Linked DNA regions of Homo sapiens. The protein of the gene in region 1 purifies or fractionates together with the protein of each later gene. This does not show direct contact. Each region holds a gene or a part of one and is shown in the gene's direction. Other genes may lie near its edges.

Region 1 (7,033 bases):
GCAACAGTTCAACAATGGCTTTAGGTCAATGTTAAATGTTACCTACTCACTTCTAAGGAAACAACCAAATGACCATTTGATTTTTTTTCTTTACATCCAGAAATGTTGGCATTGGTTAGAAACAAATATCCCACCCATCATCATCTTACCATTTCAATATGGGAGGGATGATCTTCACTTTATAAAATCATCCCTTTTTGGTATATTGCATCCACACTGCATTCTCCCTAGAAATGGGATGAATTTTATTTTCATTAAAATATTATAGACAACTTTAATTTGGTTCTCCCAAGAAGCCAAGAAATATAACTGTCCTAGCAGACCCAGGAGGAAGGCTGTGCAGCAGCCAGAGGCTTTGCATCAGAGTATACCCGGAGACCAATACCTACTTCATTTATGGTGGAGGTATACTTCACTTGCTAAGCACACTCACACAGGTGCACACACAGAGGATGTAGGAAGCACAGACATCAAAAGGAAGAAAATGGAGACTATTTGAAAAGATAAACTCGAAAGCTCAAAAAGTGTATATCTTGATTGAATTACTGTCCAGAGAAGAGGGGAGGTGTATGGCTCCGAATTGGTCTTAAAGATACATACCTTTTTACTCAAGTAAATGAAAAAGTATGCTAAAAGCAAGGAGCAGTCTTTGAGATGAGGAAGTTTTTGTGGAGAAGAGACAAATATGGTTGCTATCATGCTTTTGTAGGTAACAACAGTCCTTTAAAGTGTTCTGTCTGCAGACGTTTTCACAATGCAAAAGTCCACATTTTTTCCTATTCCATTTTTCAGGCTGCTAGAAAGTCACTGCTGAAAGTGTTGCAGATTCACATTAACAAAGGCACAGTAGGTACTGAAATTCAGAGTCATCACTGTCAGTAGCTAGGTGGCCTCTGAGAACATTTTTTTTTCATGGCACATATCTGTTCCCTCATCAGCTTAGAGGGCAAATTGATAACCTGAGGTGTTTATTGTTCCCTGACTTTCACAGCACTTTGATGGTCTTGAAGCCAAGAAAGATTAGGGGACATCTAAGTTAGTCTCTTGTGTGTGGGTTCTACCTCAAAGAGTGTGAAAAAATAGGAGACTTCATTTCATGGAGTATTTCACATTTGAATATGACATTAGGTTAACCTGAACATTTTGAGTTAATTTCTAAAAGTCTGTAAGTTCCAATTTCGTAATTCCAAAGAAGAGGCATGTATTTTTGCCGTTTCAGAAACAGATTTATCTAACTCTTACCATTTTTTGCATAGAATTATATTAAAAGCTAATTAAACAAGAGAAAAAAGTTTTTTCCATTAGGAATTAGAAAATATAATGATTTTATATTTATCATTTATGATACTTTTTTTTGTTCATTATTCTCCAAAACAATGGAAAATTATGGCAGGTTATTAGATCATACAATGCCAGGTACAAAGTCAGTGGTTGGTGAATTTTGTTGAAAGAACTAGGAATATAATTCTGAAACAATTTAAGATGCCTTGCCTTTAAAAAATCTACCTTAAGCATAGTGAATTTGGGTTTTGTTTTTTTTTTCTCTTTTGGAGGTGGAGTCTCACTCTGTCACCCAGGCTGGAGGGCAATGGCGCGATCTTGGCACACTGCAGCCTCCACCTCCAGCCTTGGCCTCCCAAAGTGCTAGGATTACAGGTGTGAGCCACTGCACCTGGCCAGTACATTTGTTAAAAGGCATATATTCCATTTACAAGCACTTCATATAATTTTTTAAAGTTACTTAAAATATGGGCCCAGCTGGGTGTGGTGAGAGTAGCAATGACCCAGGAGTTCAAAGACCTTGACTGTAGGCCAGGCACCAATAATAAATGGTCGGATGGCCTTGAGAAAGTGACAGCTCTGCTGGGTTTCAGTTTCCACATGAGTGACATGATTGATTTGGAGCAGGTTACTTCTAATATTCCATGCAGCTTCAAAATTCCACAACTGAATAATTCAGGTTAAGGAATTTGTACCTAAATTTAATAGACACTGATCCAGTACCAATATATGCCAGGTAATATTATAAGCACTTTACAAAGTATTTAATGATATAATAATTTTAATAAAGCATAGACCGCATATGGGGTAGCATTTCCTGCACTATGAAGTATAAACAAATGATAGTAGTTTTACTAACATTCAATATAAGTTATTTAAAAAAACAGAATAGAAATAAAATAATGCTTGGAATTGCAAGTAATATAGGAATGAAATTAGTTATTCCATTTAAACTGCCAAAAAAAATTATATGGTCAAAATAAGTGATTTAATCTTTATTTGACTTGAGAGAGTACACTAGATTACACATGCTTCACATCTGTCTCATTGTAAATGACTTGGCTGCCATAAACTTGAATGTTCTCACATATTAAATCACATAGGAGAAAATTTTTGTGAATCAAAGACTTTCTACCTGTATTACATCTTAATATAATACTCATATTATAAATGTTTCAAGTGCACAACTCATTTGGGAGAAACAAGCTGGAAACCATTATATGATCACAGTAGAGCTTCTAAATATCAGAGAGGCTTATTTCATGTGTACAGTGGGCACCTGGTTGCCTGAAGGTTGGAACAAAAGATAATACAGTGAAAGAGAGTTTGATTGGAAAGCTACTAATAGGTTTCAGTTTCTAGGCCTGGTTGAACAGTCCGACTCTCAAGCTAAAGGGCTGGAAATGAGTGGAAATTTGTCAAGCCAGGCAATTTCCACATCTTGACATGCTGCATGGGCCCTTGTTCCATTACTTTCACAACTGCTAGGACTTCAAGCATTTTCATCCCCTCCTCAACCTCCTTTACTCCTATTCCTCCTTAAGGTCAAGTTCAAGTACTAATTCCTCTGAGAAACTCTTCCTGAGTCAACATTTCTGGCTCCCCTCAAAGTTCCTCCACCTACACAAAGGGTTGGACAAAGATTCCATAAATGCTTCTAAAGCATCTGGTATAAATCTCTAAAATATTTACATTATTCAGCCTACCATATTGAATTACATTATTGGTCTATAGTCTTTCTCAGTGAACTGTGAGCTCCTTGAGAATAGGAACTATGTTAATTCTTTTTTGGATCCCCAGAGTCTTGACACAAATGACATGCATTGTTTGTTAAATCCATGAATGAATGGGTGGATGACAGTGGTAAGGCATTTACTATTAAAATAGTTGGCACCACTGGATCTCCATGCATTATAATTTGGTTGGGAACTGTGATGAGAATTGACTGTTCCAAGGAAGGCAATGGAGTAAGGGATGTATTTCTTGCACATTTGCAGAGTATCTTCATAATCAACAATTTGGTTTAGGTCATTCTCCCTGACTCCATACTGAGAATAGTAGAGAAATTGAGAGGAAATGAAACACATTAAAAAAAAAATCTATTCCGCCAGGATTGGTGGCTCACGCCTGTAATCCCAGCACTTTGGGAGGCCGAGGCGGGTGGATCATGAGGTCAGGAGTTTGAGATCAGCCTGACCAATATGGTGAAACTCCTTCTTTACTAAAAATACAAAAATTAGCCGGGCAAGGTGGCATGTGCCTGTAATCCCAGCTACTCAGGAGCCTGAGGCAGGAGAATCACTTGAACCTGGGAGGTGGAGCTTGCAGTGAGCCGAGATCGCGCCATTGCACTCCAGCGTGGGTGACAGAGCATGACTCCATCTCAAAAAAAAAAAAAAAAAAAAAAACCACAAAATCTATTCAACAGATATTTAGTGAACAGCTACTATCCAAGGTGCTCTGTGTCCTAGGCAGACCCAGATTCTACCCTCAAAAAAAATATACTTTGGATATTTAAGAAATTCACATAAAGGAAGAAAGCAATACATGACATAAAAGACTTCAATGTTTACCAAAATGAAAGAATATGTAATAAAGGGTATAGAATGGTCAGAGATGTCAGAAATAAATTTGCTGGATTCCCAAGAAGCTCTCACTGTGCGGGAGAGCTAGGTTAGATCACTATGGCTCACAACCTGCTCTCAGCTATAAAGGTCCTGGACCCAGAGATGGTCAAGTCCAAGGAGATTGGCATACATGCACACCAAGCTTACCAGGGATTGAAAAACCAAAAGGCCAATGACTAGATGAACTGGATAATTAATTATGATTTAAAGATGGGCCCAGACTAAAGGGATCTGGATGGTACTGGAGATACTTCAGCCACACAACACAAATGTGCAAGCCAGACTTCCAACACAGCCTTTCTCTCCAAGAGCATAGACCAGATACAGTATTACCCATTCTTAGGCAGTATTGGATAAATAGAGGATCTGGTAGATACAGATATATGCTATCAATGGTAACTATTATGAGATTTCAGAAAGTTAAAAGTTGCATTCAGCCATAAACATCAAGGGACACTTTATGGAAGAAGTGGTAGTCTGACAATGTCTTTGAAATTGCATAGAGTTTGCAGTGGTGACTTGGGGAAGAACACTGTAGACAGAAGGGAAAGCATGAACAAAGAAAGTGAGTGGTTTATTTTTGCTGGAATTCAGGGTATACAATGGAGGATAGTAGAATGTTATGAGAGAAATTGGAACCAGATCATGGAGGGGTCTTGAAAGCTAGTTAGGAAGTTTAAGTGTTATTCTTTGTGTAATAGGGAGTCATCATAGAAAAAAACATGATTAAGGCCGGGCACGGTGGCTCACGCCTGTAATCCCAGCACTTTGGGAGGCTGAGGTGGGCGGATCACTGTAGGTCAGGAGTTCAAGACCGGCCTGGCCAATGTGGTGAAACCCCATCTCTACTAAAAATTCAAAAATTAGCTGGGTGTGGTGGCAGGTGCCTGTAATTCTAGCTACTTGGGATGCTGAGGCAGGAGAATTGCCTGAACCTGGGAGGCGGAGGTTGCAATGAGCCGAGATCACACCACTGTACTCTAGCGTGGGCAACAGAGCTAGACTCTGTCTCAAAGAAGAAAGAAAGGAAAGAACAAAAAAACATGATTAGAACTGTACTCTGAGAAAATTAACTTGGTTGCAGTGTGTAAGTTGACTGGGAGGAGGGAATCCTAGCTGCAGAGGCCTTTGGGAAGCTACAAATTCTATATAGGAGGACTGAAACTAGGACAATATTGGTATAGGTGGAGCAGAGACTTTAAGGTACAAACCAGGAAGTATCATAGTATTTTCCTTGCATGCACACACATGCACACACACTCCAAAGCAAAATATAACCTATAACCTATGTAACCCAAATATAATATAAAAGAAAATCATTCTTTATTTCTATGAAATTCTCCATTTATAAAGAACAGAAGATTGAAAAACCATTGATTCATGTAGCCAATTTAATTGAGTTTTAGATAGTCTAAATATCAAATTTGTTAAAAATGGAATTTCCAAAGCACCAACATAGTGGGTATCCATACCTAAATAGACATCTTCAGGGAAAAGAAAAAAATATCCTACATAAGTAAATGTTCTTCTTTCCCAGGATAACTAGGTGATTTCTCCAAATCGACTTTGTTTCAAATACTTTCTAACATTAGCTAACCCAACTAATAGGAATGTTGCAGAAAACAGAAACAAGAGCTTTGTGAGAAGTTTGATTACCTGTATGGCATTTTGGAGGAGAGGAAGAATGAAATGACCCAAGTCATTACCCGAACCCAAGAGGAGAAACTGGAACATGTCCGTGCTCTGATCAAAAAGTATTCTGATCATTTGGAGAACGTCTCAAAGTTGGTTGAGTCAGGAATTCAGTTTATGGATGAGCCAGAAATGGCAGTGTTTCTGCAGGTAAGTCTCTTTTTGGCACCAAAGTAACAACCCAAAAGGTGGGTGTTGGAAAATTAGTTATCACATTTTTATTATTTTATGTACATTTCAGTTTTTATTTATTTTACCAACTAAAATATAAACCCCATGTGCTTATATATTAATCTATTTAAACAACTTAAATAGCATGTCTATGATACTGCTTAAATCTAATAGGGTTCTGTTATAAGACAGCAGTTATTTATGACATTTAGAAACTAAGCTATGAGATTCTCAGAGTCAACAAAGGAAATAATTGTCTTACCACTGTCTTTTGTGGAAATAATTTAAGTAAGACTATCTTTTGTTTGCTTTCACAGAATGCCAAAACCCTGCTAAAAAAGTAAGAACTTTTTATTTTATGTAAAAATGCATATTTTCACCTTTACCCAAGGCTATCCAATTTTCAACAGTGACAGAAAGTGGCAACTTGTCTTTGTTGCAGAATCTCGGAAGCATCAAAGGCATTTCAGATGGAGAAAATAGAACATGGCTATGAGAACATGAACCACTTCACAGTCAACCTCAATAGAGAAGAAAAGATAATACGTGAAATTGACTTTTACAGAGGTTTGTTATTCTTTTGACCATTTGGCCGAAGTTGCAGGTGTGTGAAAGCTGCCGAAGAGTTGGGTGGGAGGAAAGCGGGGATTCAGAATCACCTCCAGAATCAATGTCGACAACTTTACAAGGATCATATCCAATGTGAAGCTCTATTTCATTACAGGATCACATCGTTTGTTGACAGTGTTTATTTAGCTTTGCACATATGGTGCCTTTTTTTTTTTTTGATGGACTCTCACTCTGTTGCCCAGCCTAGAGTGCAATGGCACGATCTTGGCTCACTGGAACCTCCACCTCCTGGGTTCAAGCGATTCTCCCGCCTCAGCCTCCTGAGTAGCTGGGATTACAGGCACCTGCCACCACACCCGGCTAATTTTTGAATTATTAGAGAGGTAGGGTTTCGCCATGTTGGCCAGGCTGGTCTCGAACTTCTGACCTCAGGTGATCCACCTGCCTTGGCCTCCCAAAGTGCTGGGATTACAGAAGTGAGCCACCATGCCCGGCCTGGTGCCTATTTTAATGTCAGGTTGGGTATTTGACTCTTGATAAGCAAATGCTTCATAATTGATAATGATGATATCTCAACTTCAATCCTATGCACAGTGTTAGCCAAAATAATGTAAAGTGTCAGCAGGAGCAAGGTTAAAGATGAGATAAAAACAATACATAGGAGGCATGTGGGTTAGATATTGCAGCACATC
Region 2 (5,296 bases), on another chromosome or scaffold:
CCTCAGCCTCCCGAGTAGCTGGGACTGTAGGCACTGCCACCATACCCAGCTAATTTTTATTTTTGTAGAAATGGTCTTGCACTGTTTCCCAGGCTGGTCTCAAGCTCCTGGGCTCAAACGATCCTCCCGCAGTGCTGGGATTATGGGCATGAGCCACTGCACCGTTCCCCAGTTGAAGTCTTAACAGGCCAAAAAAAAAAAAAACTGTGGAGATGGACTTAAAGTTCTTTATTTTAGGTCAAGGTCAGCATCTCCTCGACGATCAAGATCTATCTCTCTTCGTAGATCAAGATCAGCTTCACTCAGAAGATCTAGGTCTGGTTCTATAAAAGGATCGAGGTATTTCCAGTATGTAACACTTTTTTTCCTTACTTGTGTTTGGATTGTTCACATCTTATCAGTAGAGTGTCTTAAGGACATAATTCAAATGGATTGCTTCAGGGAATATTTGAGATGTAAAAGTTTGGAATTTATGTGTAACTTGTAACATAAATATTAACCTAGTTTTACAGATGAAGAAAAGGGCTACTAGAGATTTTAAGGCTTGTTAGGCCGTGTGGTAGACAAGGGTCCCAAGCAATACAGTTCTACTCAACACTCTGGGTAGGCATGTTGCTATAAACTTTTCTGGCTTCAGATTGGATGATACTAGCTCTGAAAGATGGTAATTGATTTTCCCGACAAAAAGGCCTATTAGCACCAGGAAAAGAGATCAGAAGCAAGTAGAAACATTTCTCATTTTTGGAATGATGGGGTTGATTTGAGACACTGGAAAGTTGACTAGGGCAGTAGTGTGTACACAGAAATGAATGTGGATTTTTTTTTTTAGACCGTTTCAGACCTGAAAAAACTAAAGAACCAGAGCTTTACTATTTGTAGAAGGCCTTAAAAGGAGATAGAATGGAAAAAATTGTAAAATAAGTATTGCAACATGTAATTAACAATATTGTTATCTGTACCAACGATAAAACCGTGGTACGGAATGCTACTGGGAGTTAAATTGCTGTTTAATAGCACAAAACCTTTAAATGCAGGAATTCTGAATCTTGTGGTCTATTTGAGAAAGCTATGAACCATCTCTTTAGATAAATTTAAAAGATAGATATGTCAGTCTGATTTGGTTTGTCTGACAGATTGATGGCTCTCAAACATAACTTGATCCAGGAATAAAGCCTTACAAATGGGGGGCGGCTTTCTTTTCGTCTGGCCTTATCACCTGAATTAGTCTCAGTTCAGGGGTCTGGTTATTTTCATCCTGCCTTAGCCTCCTGAGTAGCTGGGACTGCCATTGTGTACCACAGTGCCCAGCTGAGGGATCTGTGCCTTAAGTGAGGTTAGTTTTGCTTCCTTCATACCAGTCTCATCAAATGAAAACCATGTATTTCCCTTGGATATTACACAGTGTTTGAGAATGTTATACCTGTACAGAAACTAACCAATTGAGTGATAGAAACAAGTAATTGAAATGGGGGTTCCTTATGTCTGGTAACACTTTGTTTGACAGTGTGTTAGACAGAATAAGGCAAGTGTTGCATCTTGTTTAGTTTTAGCTTCTTTATGCCTGACCAACCTAATACAGTGTTGAGTAGTTAAGGAAATTCCTTTGGACTGATTGATATAATTGTGTTTTTCACTTTTTTTATTAAGATCCCCGTCGAGGTCAAGATCAAGATCCAGGTCTATTTCACGACCAAGAAGCAGGTAGGGTAAAAATTTGATTATGCTTTTCTAGTTATATGGCACCAATATCCAAAGAGTTCAAAGTGTTTTTAATTGTTGAAATTTTAAGTGTTAACTCTAAACTTAGGTTTTAGTGGGAACACAGTACCTTATTTGTGTATGTCCTATTTATTACTGGCTGACTTTCCCTGAACAAGGGAATGTAAAACTATAGTGAGAAAGAAGCTTATGACTTGGGGGATTATATTAAAGAGGCCCTTGTTAGAACTGATAGGTGCATGGAGAAGCATCCTGAAATCGATGTGCTTAAAGCAGAATGTAAAAGATTAATCATGATGTAGTAATTGAGTCATTTTTTGAAAAACAGTTGTTGAAAGATTGGCTTTTGTTAGCAACAACTGGTAGGATGTTTTTCAGTTTAAGTGCAGTCTGACATTTTAAGCTTAGGACATTTGGGGGTTTTACGGTATTGGTGACTACAAGAAAGGGATTGGTTAGTACTCTTTCTTTAATAGAATTTCTCATGTTTTGACAGCCGATCAAAGTCCAGATCTCCATCTCCAAAAAGAAGGTAAGCTAAATGTTTTGTTGCCAAATCTTGCCTGTCAAGTGTGGCCTCTGCAGAATTTGTTTGCTTACTGCTTTGCAGTCTTTGAGCTCTTTGGAGAATTGGTGCTATATAGATTAAAATACTATGCTAAGTTTCTGAAATACTTTTTTTTTTTGATTCAGTAACATTAGTTTATACTTTTGCTGGAAATACTTAGTCATAAAATGTTAGGGTGATTATTAAGATGTGATTGGTCCTGTGAGTACTTGGTAGAAATTTTGGTAAGATAGATGCCTTTTCCCCACATGTACAATAGATACAAAGTGTGGAGAAAAGTCTTGGAAATAGTTACCTGCCTAGTGCTTCTTTATGACCAGAAAACTTCAAATAGTTGTCATATTTATCTAGTGCTTCTTAATGACCAGAAGACTTCAAATAGTTGTCATATTTAACTGCAGGTTGACCTTGCAATTTTGACAAGGAGGATAGCCTAATTTTTTTTTTTTTCTGGGATGGAGTTTTCGCTCTGTCCCCAGGCTTGGAGTGCAGTGGCTCAATCTTGGCTCACTGCAGCCTCCGATTCCCGGGTTCAAGCAATTATCCTGTCTCAGCCTCTTGAGCAGTTGGGATTACAGGCACCCACCGCCAAGCCTGGCTAATTTTTTGTATTTCTAGTAGAGACGGAGTTTCACCATGTTGGCGAGGTTGGTCTTAAACTCCTGATCTTAGGTGATCACCTGCCTCGGCCTCTCCCAAAGTGCTGGGGTTACAGGCGTGAGCCACCGTGCCTGGCCAGGGTAGCCTAATCTTAAGCCAGGGACAAAAGATGAATATATGTAAGTTTCATGTCATTTTTAGGTCTTTGCTATAGGAAATTAGTACCTTAGGCCACCTTTGAAGTTATTGAAAGTTAGTACATGTACATGAGAGTTTCAATTGACACTAATTGGATCCAAACCTAATGTTTTTCTTTTTAGTCGTTCCCCATCAGGAAGTCCTCGCAGAAGTGCAAGTCCTGAAAGAATGGACTGAAGCTCTCAAGTTCACCCTTTAGGGAAAAGTTATTTTGTTTACATTATTATAAGGGATTTGTGATGTCTGTAAAGTGTAACCTAGGAAAGATAATTCAACCATCTAATCAAAATGGATCTGGATTACTATGTAAATTCACAGCAGTAAGATAATATAAATTTTGTTGAATGTATTAACATCATATGGTCTGAAAATGTGGGTTTTTATTTGGCACATTTAAATAAAATGTTTCTAACTAGATTTTTGATTTGTGTTCAATATTAACACTTCTTAATTTGATATATTTGAGAGTCAGACATTATAATTGTTAACCTTATTCATACATACCTACATTCAGAATTGAAAGGTGTTGGTTAAGTCTTGAACATCACTATTCTATGCATAAAACTTGGCCAGGATCTTAAGGGACTTTGAAAATTCCATCTTACCCTTGTAGCTCTGGGTAAGATGACCTGAGTCCCTTATGATACAGCCTGAATGCATCATGACAGATCCTTAAGTTAGCTAATCCGTTTGAAGTTGGTGTTAGTAGGTATTGTATGATCAGTGGTGAAGCAAGTAGGACCACTGATGTGTCTAAATGAGCATGACAGGAACTAAACGAAACTGATTAAATGTATGAGAAATAGAAACATTTCTGGATGATCTTTATACTAATTGCAGCTTTCAGGCTACTAGGTGGCATAGTGTTAATTAGGACTCCCCAAGATATGGGGAGTTCTACTCTCAATGGTCTTGTTTCTTTGCTTTCTACATTAGTTAACCAGTTTTATACCAAAAAATGCATGTTTGAGGAATTGTCTGAAATTGGGACAAAACACCTTCATGTAAACCAGCTTTGCAAAATTTTCCAGCCCAGATACTCTTCATCTATTCAAATGGATTGTCTTATTCTGAGCAAAGACCTGTTGTTAATCTTCAAGCTAGGTTTTGCAGTTCCCAACCACAACATTCTTCTATTTTGCCAGGCTGGTGCAAAGTAATTAAAGATGTCAATCAGAAATGTCAATGAGACTAAAGTGGTTTTGTAAATCTCAGCTATATTTAGCAACACTCCATGTAGCTAATATTTTTTGGTAGCATCTGGTAGACCTTAGAATGTTACATAGCCAGTAGGTTCTTTATTCAAATTTTAAGTATCTTAAGAATAGTAGGGCAGTAACAGTTACTTTTGAGAGTTTTCTGGTCAAGCTTTTACCAGGCATTCTCTAGCCTTGGTACAAAAAAAAAAAAACCTGCTGGTTGCGCAGATACCTAGGCTTGTCCATTTTATGCATTTCAGCAAAGTCATTGGATACTATTGCAACTTGGGAATACTGGTCTGCATCAAGTTTATTCGGTAGTTTGACCGCTAGTATGTTGGAAGTTATTTGGATTGTTTTTGGAATTTTGACTGGCTGAATTATGGTTGGTATAAAGTTATGTGTATAACTGGCAGGCTTATTTATCTGTTGCACTTGGTTAGCTTTAATTGTTCTGTATTATTTAAAGATAAGTTTACTCAACAATAAATCTGCAGAGATTGAACAAATAATCCTGATACTTAATTTTTGGAAGTGGGAGCTCTCAGCCAAAAGTAGGAGGCATTAATCCTGTAGCTTTAGGATGGGCAGCTAGTAGCGTCCTAGAAATGAGTATAGAAAGGATAAAAAGGTGTGGAGGAGGGGTAGGGGCAAAAATGGTTTTAAACAAATTCCAGCCTTGTGGGGAAAAGGGCTGTTTGGGCCAATACCTCTTAGGTCATGTGCAACTTGGCACCCGTTACTGATAGATGCATTTCAAAATAAGCTTTGGTGCATCCCCCCACTTGTTTTCTGTGATTGGGATTGCCAAATTGATTGTCACTGATTGGAAGTGCTGCTCCAGACTCATTCCTTCTAAACTAGCCTAGCACTGATGAGTAATCAGTCAGTTTTTATTTTTAATTTTTAAAATTTTTTTGCTTGGTGCGGTGGCTCGCGCCTGTAATCCCCCAGCTACTTGGGAGTCTGAGGCGGGAGAATCACTTGAACCTGATTGAATAGAGGTTGCAGT

Evidence for each region. The genes of interacting proteins can lie anywhere in the genome.
Region 2: the proteins of TRIM55 (region 1) and SRSF7 purify together in Homo sapiens (affinity purification with mass spectrometry; 2 studies listed by BioGRID, with this or other methods). This does not show direct contact.

What each region holds. Positions count from the first base shown.
Region 1 is NC_000008.11:66,144,129-66,151,161, forward strand, and holds part of TRIM55 (tripartite motif-containing protein 55), read left to right. Parts: intron 1-5,516; coding exon 5,517-5,750; intron 5,751-6,088; coding exon 6,089-6,111; intron 6,112-6,213; coding exon 6,214-6,338; intron 6,339-7,033. UniProt on the Homo sapiens protein: E3 ubiquitin ligase that plays an important role in regulating cardiac development and contractility, muscle growth, metabolism, and fiber-type differentiation.
Region 2 is NC_000002.12:38,743,099-38,748,394, reverse strand, and holds the end of SRSF7 (serine/arginine-rich splicing factor 7), read left to right. Parts: intron 1-237; coding exon 238-348; intron 349-1,647; coding exon 1,648-1,701; intron 1,702-2,215; coding exon 2,216-2,251; intron 2,252-3,207; coding exon 3,208-3,262; 3' UTR 3,263-4,796; downstream 4,797-5,296.